2 separate regions of the Homo sapiens genome follow, and region 2 is linked to region 1. The links come from fine-mapping of genetic effects on gene expression. Tissue or cell type: prefrontal cortex. Region 1 holds a variant in brackets; the other region holds the start of a gene. All regions are shown on one strand. Distances are between the middles of the regions.

Region 1 (8,104 bases):
TGACTAGCTCCAGGGTTTCCAGCCTGTGCTGGGGGCAGCTGCTCAGGCTTTCTTTCACCTGTGTGGGCACGTGCAGGGGTGGGGATGCCCTCTCTGCAGTGCCAGCCCCACAGCTGAGGGCCAGAAGCTCCCTATGCAGAGATGGCCTCGGTCAGAGATGGCTGGCGTTTCTGCCTTTCATCAGGGAAACTAGTGGTGCAAGCAGAGGGACTCTCAGACAATCTGGTGACTTGGCCCTTAGTGGTGGAGCTGTTGCCATGGTCTATGGGGAGGGAGCCCTTTGCCTCTGAATCATAGTTTCTGAGTTTTGAACTGTAGTTCTGGGTTTGTGCTGAGACTCTCCCCAACCCCCATTCTCTCCAGAGCCAGAAATTGCTTTGGAGTGGGAGTGTGGTGAAAGAAGGTAGGTCAGTGTCAGTTGTCACAAAATCGCTGCATAAAAACCACTGAGACCTGGTGACATGCAATTGTAAACATGTGTTTTTTTTTCCCTGTGCAACAGTGGGTCATTTGTGGCTCTACGGATCTGAGCCAGGCCCGGCAGGGCTCACTCATGGGCCTGTGGTTGTCTGCGGGTTGGCAAGGTGGCTGTGGGATCTTCTTCCACCTAGGGCCCTTGGCTGGGCCCCTGGGGCCAGTGTGGCTCTGCTCCACGCATCTCCTCCTCCAGCAGGCCAACCTGGGCCTGTCCTCCTGGTGGAAGTAGAAGCGCCAAAGAGAGTGGCAGCTCAGCCTCGCATTGGCACACACACTCACTGCCACTGGGTTCTGTCAGCCACAGCAGGTCACCCTGCTAGGTTGGAGAAGTAGATGCCACCTCCTCAGGGAGTAGCTGCAAAATGTCCTTGGGGGCCTGGAGGCAGGGAGGGGTGGAGAACTGTGGCTATTTTTTTTGCAGTCAATTCACCGTACCATGTGGACTCCCCAGTGTGGAGCAGAATCTGAGGACTGACTTGCTAAGAATCTCTGGGCACCCTGGATAGAACCTTCCCTTTGGCTCTGAGCATGGTGGCTCACACCTGAGATCCCAGCACTTCGGAAGGCCGAGGTGGGAGAATTGCTTGAGGCCAGGAGTTCGAGACCAGCCTAGGTAACGTAACGAGACCTTGTCCCTACAAAAAATTAAAAGAAAATTACCCAAGTGTATTAGTCCATTTTCACACTGCTATGAAGAACTGCCTGAGACTGGGTAATTTATAAGAAAAGAGGTTTAACTGACTCACAGTTCCTCATGGCAGGAAAGGCCTCAGGAAATTTATGATCGTGGCGGAAGGGGAAGCAGGCACGTCTTACGTGGCGGTAGGTGAGAGAGGATGTGTAGGAAGTGAAAGGGTAAGAGCCCCTTATAAAACCATCAAATCTCATGAGAAATCACTCTCTATCATGAGGACAGCATGGGGGAACCACCCCCATGATCCAAACACGTCCCACCAGGTCTTTCCCTCAACACCTGGGGATTACAATTTAAGATGAGATTTGGTGGGGACACAAAGTCTGACCCATATCACCAGGTGTGTTGGTGCACGGATGTGGGAGGATCTTGAGCCCAGGAGGTTGAGGCTTCAGTGAGCCATGAATGCACCCCGGCACTCTAGCCTGGGTGACAGAGGGAGCCCCTGTCTCAAAAACAAAAAGAGAAAGAACCCTCCTTCTAAGTTATCTTCATTCTTCCTACGTTCCCACTGAACCTGCCCACAGACCCTTTCTTGGCACAGCCCTTGCAGCCTGGCCTACCGTCGGCTTCTCCTGAACAGCATGCCTGTGCAGCTCTTGCCCAGAGCCCAGAAACCTTCTGGAAAGGGGAAGCTGGGAGGAGTCCGTCTCTATTTCCTCTCTCTCTCTCCCCAGCCCCTCTCCTGTGGGACCGACCAGTGGAGCTTTCAGGGTGCTCCATCTTCCTCTCTGGGCTACTCCGGGCTTTATCTGGCAAGTGAGGCCCCACTCATGGGGCTGTCGCCCTGGCTAGGTACAGATAGGTCCTATGCATGGATGACTTCAGGCAATTCTCACAACAACCCTGCCAGGTCATCTGCATTATCCCCGGGGTCACATGAAGAAGTAGGTTAAGTAAGGGGCCAGGTCCCCCAGCTCCTCAGTGGCAGAGACAGGGCTGAAACTCAGCTGGGAATGACCATTGAGTATGGTGGTTTCTTACCCCCATCCCACAGATTGGAAGACCGAGACCCTCCTAGTCAAGTGACAGATTCCCCTTCTCCAGCTCCGCAGTGGCCTGGCAGATAAATGCTAGGTTGTTTTTTTTTAATTTTTTTTTTCCCCTTCAAGTTTCCATCTGTTCACGCAGTCACCGAATTTATGCATGTTCAGGCACCATCTGCGACTGCAACCCCATTTCCAAATCCGAAAGCATTTTTCCTTTTTGTACTTAACATGCACAGCGGCGCGGCGGTCCAGAATAAATAACTCTTCTTGGATTGCCAAAGTTCCAGGGGCCTCCACGGGAAATTTTCTCTGAGGAGTGGGGGAGGAGGGAAGGATTTTGCTAAACTGGAATTTTGTTTTTCTGACGTGGGCTATTTCTTCTGGCTGACATTTTAGCGGGCTTCCATCTGCTGGCTGCATTTCATGACCCCTCTTTGTTGTCTCCTTTGATAACAGAAAATGTGCACCACCGCTGAGCTGCTGTGTATGCGTATGTGTATGTGTATGTGTGTGTGTGCGTGAGAGTGCATGTGTGTGCGTGTGTGCGCATGTGTGTGAGTGCGTGTGTGTGTGTGTGTATGAGTTGGCATGTATGAGTTGGTGCATGCCTCTGAGCCCACACCTCATGTCTTTGAAAGCCCTTCTGATTGCCCCTCACCTTGAGACCATCGTGGTCACAGTCACACAATTTGGGACTTGGGGAGCGATGACCTGGCTGGAAAGCTGGAAGATGTGGTGACTGCACAGGTCCTGCAACTTCCAGAGCTTCTCCAGAGCTCCCAGAGGCCAGAAAATCAGTTTTATTTTAGATTCTGAGAATGAAATTTAGAAACCCTTCTCTCTCCAACCTTTTCCTGGAATACTTAGTAGTTTTCTGACTGTACCATGGCTAGGTTAATTTTCCTTATTTTATTTTTTATTTTTTGCTCTTGTCATTTCCTGTTTCCAAACCTTCCACAGATGTTATCCATCATCATCAGTGTGGCTGGCTCCCTCCAGGCTGTCTTTCTGTCTGGACCATTTCTGTCCCCTCCTGCCCTGGGAGGGTCTCTCTCGATGCCTTTGCCTGTACCACACTTCTGTGTGGTGTGTCCTCTGCCCTCCCCATCTTTCCACACTCTAACTGTCCTGTCCCTGTCCCAGAGGGTGTCCCTGCCTGCTCTGTGTCCCTGAGAGCCAATGCTGCAGCATCCTCCCAGAGCCAGTCCCAGGTGACACAGAGCCCCTTCCTGTGTCTTCCTCATGTGTGTCTCCTTCGGTGCTCCACCGCCTGGGTGGCCCACGTTTGGTGGATTTCACATGGAATCTGGAGATAGAGTCTGATGTGCATGTGGTTTGGGGAGCTGGCTTCTCTCAGCAGGTGGGAGATTTACACACAGGAGCAGGAGGATCCTTTGAGCCCAGGAGGTTGAGGCTGCAGTGAGCTGTGACTGTGCCACTGCACTCCAGTCTGGGTGACAGGGCAAGACTCTGTCTCTAAAACAAAACAATCTGACATCCTGGTCCTTAAGGTGATGGTTTTAGGAGGTGGAGAATTGGGGGGTGATTAGGCCACTGGGGAGGAGCCCTCATGAATGGGATTGACGGATTAATGCCATTTTTGAAGAGGCCTGAGAGATTCCTTGCTGTTTTGTTAGAGTGAGAAGATGGCCATCTGTGAGGAAGTGGGGGGCCCTCATGCAATACCAAATCTGCTGGGGCCTTGATATTAGACTTCCCAGCCTCCAGGTGTGAGCAATAAACTTCTGTTGTTTACAAGTCTCTC[C/T]TAGTCTCTGGTATTTTTGTTATGGCAGCCGAAATGGATGAAGACAACACCTGAATGCGCCCGTTCCTAGGCCCTTCTCCAAGTCTTGGCTTGGTGTTTGCAGCTCCCCCTGCATCAAGCAGCAGAATGCAGCTTCTAAGAGTACCAGCTTTGACAGCAGAGAGACCTGGGTTTGAAGAATTCTAGCTCTGTGACTGGACATGGCCTGTGCTTTCTGTCTGGACTATTTCTCTCCCATCCGCCCTTGGAAGCAAACTCCTATTCATCCTTCAAGACCCAGATGTCAGATGCCTCTTCTAGGAAGCCTACCAGGCCCTCCATGGGCCACATGTACAGGCTAAGCCATCTACCTCTGGGCTGGCTTCTCTTCCCTGTGTGCTCCCCAGGTCAGAGACCGTGTGGCTCTTGGGGGCCCACAGAGCTGGCAGCAGTGAACATTGGATGGATGGACTGTCATTTTGTAGCAACAGGAGCCTCCCGACTCCCATCCATGCCCCTACAATGGATTAGTCTGTAGGGCCCAGCCCTTTCTGTGGGCGCTCAGCACAGCATGGTCACCCGCTAGCCCTGGCCGGGCAGCCCCTCCTGCGGCAGGGAGTCCGAAAGCGTCCGGATGCTTTAACTGCCACCGGCCAGGCCCTGCAGGAGCCCAGCTCAGGGAGGAAGGACAAGGCATGCCTTTTCTCCTAAATGGGAGCTAACGAGTGTGGTCCCCCAGCTGCTCACTGTTGTCAGAGCTGTGCCCTGTCAGCTGGAGGCTCAACATGTGGCTGTCTGTGGTGGGGCTTCTGGGGGGACGGGGTGGCCTGCAGAATGCCCATGCAGCCTCCACTCCTGGCAGAAGGCCTGTGCGCTAGGCCCCCAGCTGATACATCGGGAGGGAAAGAGCACCTGTGCTCTCCCCACCTGTGCTTCTCCTTCCCTGTGGGCAGGCGGGATCTAGCCCTGCCCTTGCTGGAGGTCCTTCCTGGGAACCTCTACACAGCCAGGCTCTGCAGTGTCGGCTCAGGCGTGCACTGAGGGTGGCCCCTCCACAGCATCCTCAGGACCTCAGGCATGTGACGGTGCTTGGGGGACATCTCTTGGCTACAGGTCTGCCCTTTCTGGACCATGGCACTGGATGTAGCTCCAGGGACTCCACTCCTTGCAGAACAAAGGGAGGGGAATTATCCTCATTCAGCTCCAGCCCAGGGAGATGCCTTCACATCTCCCCTCTAGGAGTGCCTGAGCTCCCTAGAGCCTATGACACAGGGGACATCCTGGCCCTGCCCCTTACTGAATGTGTCGCCTTCACTCTCTGAGTCTCCGTTGTCTCATTCACAAAGTCAGCATGATAATAATCATACCTGCCTGGGTTCTTGTGAACAACAACAAAAACCAAACAAAACCATTATGCAGAATGGAAAAGCTTTGTCAGCATACAGCACTGTCCTTGTAGAGGCGAGTGGCCGGGCACCCACAGCATGGAGCACCAGGGATGTGCCAGCTACCACACGCAGGCAGAGACAGACTTCCTCCTGCTTCTGCTTGCGGGATTTGATATTGTGGTGAGGGAGGGGACAGATGCTCCATAAGTGAGCCCAGGCACATGTCATCCAGCCCGTCTATGTGCACATCGGGCCTCTAGGGGCCAGAAAGTGGCTGGGTATTTCACCCCCATCCCCAGGAAAGATGAGGCCCAGCGGGGCAAGATGCAGGGAGTGGGCTCTTTCTGGCAGTCACAGGAGTGGGTTCTGATTCCAGGCAGGCTTGCTGTATCTTCTTGGCAGATGCCGTCTGGATCCTTAGGAGCTGCAGGGTGGATGGCAACAAGGTCTGGACGTCACTGGGCAGTGAAGCGGGGGCCTGGTTGGCCAAGCCATTGCCTGATGGGGATACCAAAGAGGGGTCTAGACAGGGAACTGCAGGTCCTCCCCATTCTGCCATCCTCTTATGGTCCAGGGGTATGAAGCCTTCCAGCCACACAATCTCGAGGACAGAACTCGAGCATGTTGGCCCTAAAAGCCCCTCTTTCCACCACCCCACTGCAAAGATTAGGTCCAACTCTCTGAAGGTTATTGAGGCGGAGAGGCAAGTGCCAAGGGCTCTGGATTTTGCATCTGGGAGACCTTAGGCTGGTACCTTCTTCTCACTGGGCCTCAGTTTCCCCCTGAGTCAGATGAGAGGGTTGGACCAGATGGTAACAGGCTTTTCATCTGTGGCTTGCTTGTGACCATCAAAAAAAGCAAAAACACGTTAAAGCCTCGCCAGTCATCATTTTCCAAGTTTCCCCTGGATTTTTCCATCGGAAGACAAAACGTGATGAGACCATATGTCAGGCTAATTGTTCCCCAAACAGAATTTAAACATTTGAATATGCTTGCAACAGGGAAGGGCAGGAAAGAAAATGGTGTTGCAGGGGGTGGAGGTAGTAGAGTCTGGCTCTGTCCCTGGGATGTGCTACAGGGGTACCCTTGCCTTCAGGGCCATGGGGCTGCCTGGGGCAGCAAGAGGTCTGTCAAACTGTATGAAAGGTCAAGGCTGGTGGGCCATGGTTATAAAGTCCACCCACCCACTCACTCTACAGGTAACAGCAGAGCACTCAGCTGAAGCCTGGCCCAGCCCTGGGTGCTGGGAACCTGAGGATCAGGGAGGGAGACAGCTGAGGTCCTTGCTGCTTTGGAGCTCCCAGGTCAGCAGGAGAGACAAGTGCCAGGATGGAAGGGGCCACACAGGGGCTGGGGGTGCCAGTTGAGGATTAGGGGAGGCCTAAGGGATCGGGGGAGCCAGGTAACAAGGAGGAAGGGGCAAGCATTTCTGGAAGAGAAGGCAGAGAGTGTGAGGGCCAGGGTGGGAGCAGTGTGGCCACTGGTCCTGTAGAAGGCTTGTCGCATCAGAACCAGAGGGGTGCTGGGGAGAGGGGCACAGGGTTGGGGGGCCGGAGGGGTGGCTGGGGGTCCCATCACCTGTGGCGGGTGGGCTGCCTTGTCTGGGCCCTGCAAGTGATGAGGAGGGGCTGACAGCCTGCAGCAGGGGGGTGACAGGACACCTCTGGGCTTCTGTCCCAGCTCTGTGCCTTCCCCTGATGTGTGGTCAGGTACACGGAGGAGGTGCACCCCAGGGAGGGCCGTGAGTGGAGTTATTCCTCACATCCTTTTTTTTTGCATTTATTATTATTTTTAGTTGACCATAATAATTCTACACATTCATTAGGTACAGTGATATTTTAATACATGTAGAAATGTGTAATAATCAAATCAGGGTAATTAGCATATCCATCACCTCAAACATTTATTATTTCTTTGGGTTGGGAACATTCAAAATTCGTTCTTGCAGCTATTTGAAAATATACAATACATTGTGTTAATGATAGTCATCTTACAGTGTTATAGAACACTAGAACTTATTCCTCCTGTCTAGATGTAGTTCTATAGCCATTAAGCCATCTCTGGCTGTCCTCCCACCCTTCCCTGCTTCTGGTCATCACTATTCTACCCTGTTCTTTTTTTTTTTTCATTAGAGACAAGGTCTTTCTTGGTCACCCAGGTTGGAGTGCAGTGGTGTGATCATGGCTCATTGCAGCCTCCAACTCCCGGGCTCCAGCGATCGTCCCGCCTTGGCCTCCCCAGTAGCTGTGACTACAGGCATGCATCCCACCACTACCAGCAAATTAAAAAAAAAAACAAAACTTTTTGTAGAGACGGGGTCCCACTATGCTGCCCAGGCTGGTCTCGAAATCCTGGGCTCAAGGGACCTCCTACCTCGACCTCGCAAAGTGCTGCGGTTACAGGTATGAGCCACAGCACCCAACTCGCTACTTCTATGCGATCGACTTTTTCAGCTCCCACATGAGTGAGATCATGAGCTATTTGTCTTTCTGTTCCTGGCTTTTTTCACTTAGCATAACATTCTCTAAACATCCTTGCTGCCGAGAATGACCATGAAGAGGTGAGCGGATAGATAAAACGTGGTATTAATATACACACACAGTGGAACACTGTTCATCCACATCCTCTTGTTGCAGGCTCAGGGAGGTGAGCGGGTGGGGAATTGATGCCGGGACCCGGGGAGGCAGCAGCGGACGTGGGCTCAGAACCCACGCCTGTGGTCTCCTGGCTCCCCGTGGCCCCCTCTTCAGAGCACTGGGCTGCGACCTGCACCCTCTGGTGTGGCGCGGCTGCCACAAATGGTTTGAATGGA
Region 2 (8,104 bases), 120 kb before region 1:
GAGGCTTCGTCATCTCCAGGCCTTTCTACGCTCCAGGTGGGAAGCTTGGGCGCATCTCCTCCCAGAGTTAGCAACCCCATGACCCGGGCCCCTCGCAGCCTGGCACAACCACCCCCTACCCCGTCCCCTGCAAGCCTGCAACACCCCGCACCCAGACCCGCAATCCAGGCGGAGGATAAAGGGTTGCAGCGGAGGGCGCAGAGCAGATGCTCAGGGCGGGGCAGAGGGGGCGGGAAGCTGGCGCCACGGTCGCGGCGAGGGCGAGCAGCCGCGCGCTCCCGGTGCTAGGAGGAATGCCCGCAGAGCGGAGGCTGGCAGGCGCGAGAGGCCCTAAGCGCGCAGTCCGACCAAGGGGAGTTTTACAGGTCAGCGCCGAGCCGAATTAGGGGACTCAAGCCTTGGACCCTTGATTTACACAAAAGAGAACCCGACCCTGCAACCGGCGACAGATGGCGCCCGGACACGCCGAGCAGCCACCGATGCAAGGCTGCGATCGCTGCCCTACTTGCGCGGCCCCACATGCGCGGCCGCCGCGGCTTGCTAAGGGAGGGAGCTGCGGGACCCGAGGCGGCCAGAAGGGGTCTCCCGCGGCCCGCGCTGGGCTCCACACTTACGCTGATTTTAGTTGCATCCTTATTTGTTACCTAAAATGCAAAGAGGGAGAGAGAGACGTGAGGCTCGCGGCCTTCTGGCTAGGGGAACTCGGATCCGCCTTTAGGCAAGGGCACCCTCCTCCGGCAGGCTAGGACCGAAACCGCCCGGGGGATGGGGGTTGAGGGCACAAAGGACGTCCGGCTTTCCAAGAGTTTCCCAGGAGGAAGCGGGCTTTGGAGCTAGCATGGTGCCTGACCAACGGGTGGCTGCCCTGGTGCACACCTGCCGGCTGAACTGGGGAGACTGGATGGACACCAGGGTGGGAAGGAAAGCCCCTCTCCTTCCCTCTGGGCATCCTTAGGCCCTGCCGCGTGGCTCAAAATCCTCCCCCAGCTCACTGGGAGCCGTGAAGAACTGGAGGGAGGGCCGCTGTGTCTGGACAGCACCCAGCGGGAGGCTCAGTGGGAGTAACTCTGGGTGGGACCCTGGGAGAATGTAGGTGTGTGTAGGTGTAGGTGTGTGTGTAGGTGTGTGTGCACGCGAGCACACTAGAGTGTGTAAGAGAGTGTGGGTTTTGAGGCAGACAGGCAGCGTGGGCCTGTTTTCGGCCACAGAGAAGTGGCCCCTCTGTGCCCCTGAGGGCTGGAGGTCCTGCCGGCTTTCCGGTACTCGGTTTTCTGGTGGCCTCTGGAACGCAGCCGTGGGAGCCCTGGGGTCCTCAAAGTGGCAGAGGGCGGGGAGAGCCTGATGGGACCAAGGGGGCTTCCTTCACTACCCAGCACCCATCAGAGGGCCGCAGCCAGCGAGCACGAGCAAGCGACCAGGCTGAGGTGTGGCTCTTTAGGGGCTGGGCGTGAATGGAGTTCTGGGAGGTGGTGGGAACAGCGATGCTGTCAAAATAATTGACAGGTTTGGGGGTAACCACTGCTGACTTTGAAGATGCTTTGGGATGCGAAGGTGGAAGATGGGCTGCGCCACAGGGCGGCGCCCTGCGCGAGTGAAGCCCGCTGCTTCCCTCCCTGGGTTAGCCTTCGCCGCCCCGGGCGCGAGCCGGGCGCGCGCCGGTACCGCGTGGGCGGCGGGTTACCTTGCTCCGGGCGCCCGGCACGCTGAGCGCCAGCTCGTGCAGCAGCTCCCGGGGTGGCTCCTTGAGGTACCACCACTGAATCTCCAGCGAATACGAGGTGGCTCCGCTGGCCCGGAACGCGCAGGGCATTTCGATGTCGTCTCCCTCCCGTACTGTCACATCTTTGGGGACTTCTGTGAATGCAGCTGGGGGTGGGGAGAGAGAGAGAGGCGTGACCAGCTGTAGGTCGGGGGCCTGGGGCAACCTAAAGCGAGGCAGTCGGTCTCTGGCTGGCTGGCCTTGTGCCCCCCACCCCGCAGCTGCTCCCTGGCGCACGGCCGGAGGGGCTAGCAAAGTTCGGGGAAGCGGCTGCAGGGCCGAGGCAGGGACCGGCCATCGGCTGCCTACTGCTTCCCTCCGGATGGGGCGGGGCGGCAGGGGCGACTCGTGCTTCTCCCCCGCCCCTGGCCGCACCGCCAGAGCCTGGCTGGGGCGCGCCTACTCCCGCTCCCCGCAGGCATCCTTTCCGCAGCCGGGGCCCCGGCGGGACTGGGAACGACTCGGGCGCGGCGCTGCTGCTGCGGCGACCCTTCGCCGCTCGCCTCTCCCTACCCCTCCGGGCCCAGGCTGCACAGCGGGATTGCTGGAGACCGCGAAGCTTCCCGGTTCGTTCTCTTTCTTCTTCTTCTCGGTGGCGGCCCCAGCAAAGACCCCCCCGAGTCCACAGCGGCAGCAAAGTTCCCGCGCTCACCGTCGGCCACGAAGAGCAGCAGGGCATGCAGCAGCAGAGGCGGCAGGTATCCGAGGGCACCGAGCCGGTTCCGCTGTTCCATCTCCCGCGGGGGGCGCGGTGGCGGCGGGGGCCCGGGAGCGGAGAGGCGGCGGCCGCGTGGGCTCGGATCGGCTCCGGCTCGGGCTAGGACGCCTCCGAGCCTGCCATGGCCCCGCGCGGCGCCCCCTCCCCTGGCCGCCGGCGGCCGCCAATCAGCCCCGCTCCCTCGCCGGCTTGCCCGGTGCGGCTCCGGCGGGGGGCGCTGCGCGGGGTGTGCAGGAGACGCGGTCCCACCGGGAGGCTGCTGGCGATCGGTCAGTGCCTCTCTCTGTCCGGTCGTCCACAGGACGGTGGGGATCCGCGGTTCAGTCTCTGCCCGGCGGGCCGGGCAGGGGCTGGGCCGCGCCGGGACCCATCCCTGGCCGAGGGAGTGCGTGCCACGGAGCCGCGAGCTTCTGCCTCCCTGTCTCCTTCTGGTTCTGCTCCCGATTGCCACCTCCTTCGGCTCCCGCAGCCGCCCCCGCCGGTTCCTCCGCGGCTCTTTCCGCAGGGCGAGTGGGCGCTCAGCCGCGGCGCGCAGACCTGGCGTCCGACCCAGCGCAGCGCGGGGAGAGCGGGTCCGGCGTGGCGGACCCGGAGCCGGAGAGAGGCGGGGAGAGGGGGAGGGGAGGGGAAGGGAGGGGGCGGTCAGTGGCTGGGCGCCAAGCCGCCTCCACCGCTGCATCGCCCCCGCCCTCCCCTCTCCTGCCACAGCCCGCCCCGCCCCCGCCCCAGAGCGCTCCCCCTCTCTCCTCGGGGGTCGCTCGGAGGGACCACCGTCTTTCTGGTTGGAGTACAGCCCCGCCCCGCACCCGCTTGGGTTGGGAGTCCTCCCACCCAAACTCTCCCTGGCTTCTTCCCAGTCTGCACGGCTCGAGACGGCCGCTCATCCCTGCTCCCCGTGTGTCCCTCGGTCCTCTCTGCAGCTCCCAGCCCTCAACTCCTTACCCCAGTTTGGGCAACCAGCTGCCCCGCTGTTTGGCCCAGGCCTGGGCCATGACGGATGGGTGGGCGCCCGGGGCCGCGAGAAGGGCGGAACGCTGTGCCCAGCCGGAGACTACGCTGGGTGGCGGCGGCAGCGCCGGGAGTCTGCAGTGCGCGAGGGAGAAGTGAGCGCACAGCGCCCAGCGAGCAGGTGCCTGCGGCGCGGAGAGCGCACACGCTAGCCAGCCCGCAGCGGCCGTGAGTGACGGCAGGGGCGGCGGGGGTGGGGTGGGGTGGGGAGCGCCGGGCACGACTCAGGGCCCGGGAGGTTTCCGGGAGGGGGCGGGGTTCCTGCCCCTGGATCGCGGGTCCCTGTGTCTCCACGCGCTCTTCGCCGGTCGTGGCCCCTTCTTTGCCCGGTGCAAAGCGAGATGCCGAGGCGGCAGGAAGCCGGAACCCATCCCCCGCCTGCTCTGGCGTACTCGGCATCCCGGTACCTCCCCCAGCCTTCACCCGGAGTCTGCTCCCTCCCCAGCCATCTGAGGGAGCGCGGTCTGGTCCCCGAAGGCAAATGCGGGGTGGACATGTGGTTCGGACGCAGCGCGTAGTCATAGTCATAGGGGCGAGTCCTAAGGCTCGCCTTGGGTCTCTCCTATCTCCTTCCCCCGGGAGTCCCCAGCTAGTGCGTTTCGGCACCTCTGCCCCTACCCCGGCCCCTACGCCTCAGCTCTGACCTCAGGTTGGGGTGGGGCAGCCCGGTGGATTCACGTGCCTGCTTCCCCGGCTACCAGCCTCCCGGAGGCACCGCCAGAGGATTCCCTGGGAGCCAAGGAGAAGGAAACCCAGAGGGAAAACACTCTCCAGCAGCCACCCTGGTCCAGGCGGCCAGCGCAGCACAGCTCAGAGGGGAGGAGCTGCAGGCCCTCTCCAAGGCTGTCCTCGCCAGCGGGTGCCCGGGGCCAGCCCTTCTTGCCTCCAGTGCCTGCCTTTCAGTTTCCTCGTCTATGGCCCAGGAGTCACTCCCACCCCCTGGCTCACTGTGGCTCATCTATCAAGCCCTTGTTTTCTAAGGTCTCCTGCTGGGGGCAAAGGGAAGAAGGGGGTCCTATAGGACTTTCCTCCTTTCCCTCAAGTTCCTCTCTAGGGGCTCCACAGAGGCAGTTGCCAGCTCCTTCTGTCATGGCAGGAGCTTTTCCTAGGAAATCCCATGTGCCCTTAGAAACCACTTTGGACCCCCGAATGTAAGACCCTGCCAGGCCCCATTGCTGTCCTCAGCTTCTGAAGGGAGAGGGCAGACTTGCACCGCTCTATGCAGATTCAGGACCACAGCGGGGTTCCAGGAAAGCAGGCTCATTTGGGGACTGATTCCAAGCAGGGTTCTGAAGAAAGAGCTAGCCCACTGCGCAGTGGCCCACCTGGAGAGGTAGCAGTCTCCTTTCCTGATGCCAGATCCAAGCAGAGGCTAATGCTGGAGACCAGCGATGCCCGTGGGAGAATCCCTGTAGCTAGAGGGAATTATCTGGAAGTAATTTATCCCTGTACCGCCTTGTGGGGTTGGGTGTTTCTTGCCCACTGCATGAGTTGGTATTACTCTAAGAGCGACAGATACATGTTTTCACATGCTTTCCATGTACTAGACACTTTCTAGGCATCAGTTCTCAACATGACAAAGAGATCCTTCTCAGGGAAATCAGATCCCTCTTCCACTGCTGAAAAACCCCACAGTGGCTCCCATTTCACTTGGCATAAACACCAGTGGCCTTGCAGTGGCTGCCAAGGTCAAACCATCTGCCTTTCTGCTTCCTGCTCACCCTTTTCCTTCATCTTCTCATCTTTTCTGTCTTCTCCATAGCTCACACTCCCCTAGCCACACTGTTCTCCTTCCTACAATGCAGCACACTGGGCATGCTTCTACCCCAGGGCCCTTGCACCAGCCGCACCATCTGGTTGACATGCTTCTCCCACAGATACTTGCTTGGCTAACTCCGTTGTGCTCTGGTTTTTGTCAAGCAGTCACCTTCTCCATGAGGCCCACCTGGGCCACCATATTTAACACTGCAGTCTACACTGCCTCTCCTCCCACCACCCAGCACTCCCAGGCCCTCACTCTGCTTCCTTTATTTTTTCCATTTCGCCAGCCATCTTCCAACACATGGGACCACATCCTTATTTATTGAGTGTCTTGTTGCAGGTCTCTAAGACTGTGCCTGCCTTGTTCACTGATGTATCTCTAGCGCCTACAACAGGGTCGGGCACAGAGTAGGAGCTCAGTAAATACTTGTGGAATGAATGAATGAGCTCATTTTACCTCAATCACAACTCCAGGGGTAGACATGGTGATTTCACTCCATTTTATGGTTGAAGCTCAGAAGCTTACGGAACTTGCCCAAGGTCACATAGTTAGTAAGTGGCTGAGTGACGCATCAACCCAAAGCCTGTCTTACTCTGGGGTCCTGGATCTTAACCAAAACACTAAGCTCTTCCCTCCTCCAGGTGAGCCCCTGGTCCTGATGCCTCGAGTTGGTGTGGAGAGCAAGGCCCTACCCTTGACTGATGGGAGCAAGGAGCAGCCTGAGCTAGACTTGTAGTCTCTTTCCTGTCTGTTCAGCTTGGTCTATCTGTTTTCTGCCCTGCCTTGTAGACTGTGATGAGAGCAGCTGACCCACCTTCACTATGGTTTTTTTTTTTTTTTTTTTTGACACGGTCTTTTTCTGTTGTCCAGGCTGGAGTGCAGTGGCACGATCTTAGCTCACTGCACCTCAACGTCCTGAGCTCAAGCACCTCAGCCTCCAGAGTTATCATGCTGACACCAGGAGGATTAGCCCACCATGCCTTGCTAATATATATATATTTTTTTTGTAGAGATGGGGTGTTGCTATGTTGCCTAGGCTGGTCTTGAACCCCTGGGCTCAAGCGATCCTTCTGCCTCAGCCTTCCAAGTAGCTAGGACTACAGGCATGCACCATCACACTTGGCTAATTTTGTGCTTAAAATTTTTGTAGAGGTGAGTTCTTGCTCTGTTGCCCAGGTTGGTCTTGAACCCCTGGGCTCAAGCCATCTTCGTGTCTCAGCCTTCTAAGTAGCTGAGACTACAGGCATGCGCCACCATACCCAGCTAATTTTTAAAATGTTTTTTGTAGAGATGGGGTCTTGCTGTTGCCCAGGCTGGTCTTGAATGCCTGGGCTCAAGCGATCCTTCTGCCTCAGCCTTCCAAGTAGCTAGGACTGCAGCCATGCACCACTATACCTGGCTAATTTTGTTTAAAATTTTTTGTAGAGGTGAGGTCTTGCTGTGTTGCCCAGGTTGGTCTTGAACCCCTGGGCTCAAGCCATCTTCCTGTCTCAGCCTTCTAAGTAGCTAGGACTACAGGCATGCGCCACCATACCCAGCTAATGTTTTATTTTTAATATTTTTTGTAGAGATGGGGTCTTGCTGTGTTGTGCAGGCTGGTCTCAAACTCCTGGCCTCAAACAGTCCTCCTGCCTCTGCCTCCCAAAGCACTGGGATTATAGGAGTGAGCCACCACACTGGCTTTCTCTGTGTCTTTAACTCCCAGCTGGGCCTGCCCATAGTTAGAGCCTAGCAAATATTCGGACAGGGAACCCTGCTAGGAGCACTTTGCCTCCCTTTTGCTGTGGGTTTTCTGTGAGCAGGGCAGGGATTTTGTCTCTTCGACTTAGCCCTTTGGCTAGTTGGAGGATTAGTGAGCTAAGACCAGACTGCAGCTCCTGCCAGTCAGAGGGCACTGGGTTCCTTCCCTGCCAGTCTCTGCCAAGCCTGGCTCCCCACTCCCTGCAGGGGAGCCATTTCCTTCTCACTAAGTCCTGGTGGGATGTGGTCTCTCAGTTGGAGACTCTAAAGAAGGTGGCTGGGGAGGAGCATGCGTGTCACTTCTCCCAAAGGGACACTAAGCTCTGCGGACACAGCCATTCAGGTCTACCTACTGTGGTATCTCTTGGGCTCCTACAAAGATGACCTGTTTGCAGTGAATCGTGGTTATGTGAAGCTATGGACTTGAGAGTATTTCATGATCATTTTGTTTCTAGTCCTGATTAATCATCAATGGGAACTAACACGGTTTTCCCCTCCCTCCATCCACAGCTATAAAATGCCTGTGGGGTCGCTGTGCACAGAGACCTGGAGGCAGATCCTCTTGTAATGTGGTTGATGGGGCCATGGGTTGGCTGCCCTGCCCAGTTGGCTGTGCCCGGGGGGCTTGCTTCTGCCAGGGCCTGGCTACTGTGTGCCCAGCCTCGGGGCTCTCACTCATTACCTATCATGAGCTGTTATTATAGGGCTGTGAGCTGGGGTGCTTGTCAATACCATTTTGTGGATGGATTCACTGGACTCTCAGAGGCACTTTAAAAAGCGCTATTTAAAAAGACTGCCCAGCCTCTTGTGAAAGCACCCTTAAATTACAGCCCTAAGTGAGTGTTTTTCCTGGAACTCACTTTCAAAATTTATTTATTTTAATGCTCAGGTCCTCTTGGAGTTGGGTTTCAGTATTCTTGTCTCGGATGACCTTTCTTGTCCTCCCTGTACCATGTACGGCAACATTGATTTTGGGTAATGTATTTTGATTTTAAGATGCAGCCCATCCATAAAGTTTTCTATCAATAATCCCAGCACACTCTGTGTACCCGACAGCTTATAGGAAAATAGGAGATTTATGGGGGCTTTTATTTTTGGCCAGTTTAGTCATTCACAC

The links. PIP is the estimated chance that this variant, and not a neighbour inherited with it, causes the effect.
Region 2: it holds the start of VSTM2B-DT, and the variant in region 1 is fine-mapped to the expression of VSTM2B-DT in prefrontal cortex (GTEx, PIP above 0.99). The same link has a PIP of 0.9 or more in amygdala, anterior cingulate cortex, cerebral cortex and nucleus accumbens.

What each region holds. Positions count from the first base shown.
Region 1 is chr19:29,405,761-29,413,864 of GRCh38, reverse strand. It overlaps VSTM2B-DT (VSTM2B divergent transcript), which reads left to right. Exons shown (of 10, transcript NR_040029.2): 3 at 899-1,090. Among named protein-coding and RNA genes, the nearest start is that of VSTM2B-DT, 120 kb to the left of the region's middle. The variant C/T (reference allele first, on the strand shown) is at 3,926.
Region 2 is chr19:29,520,973-29,529,076 of GRCh38, reverse strand. It overlaps VSTM2B-DT (VSTM2B divergent transcript), which reads left to right and starts at 3,327. Exons shown (of 10, transcript NR_040029.2): 1 at 3,327-3,653. VSTM2B (V-set and transmembrane domain containing 2B) reads right to left here and starts at 3,083. Exons shown (of 5, transcript NM_001146339.2): 1 at 2,412-3,083; 2 at 1,682-1,866; 3 at 615-644. The coding sequence starts at 2,493. It overlaps LOC124904683 (a long non-coding RNA gene), which reads left to right. Exons shown (of 2, transcript XR_007067215.1): 1 at 1-36.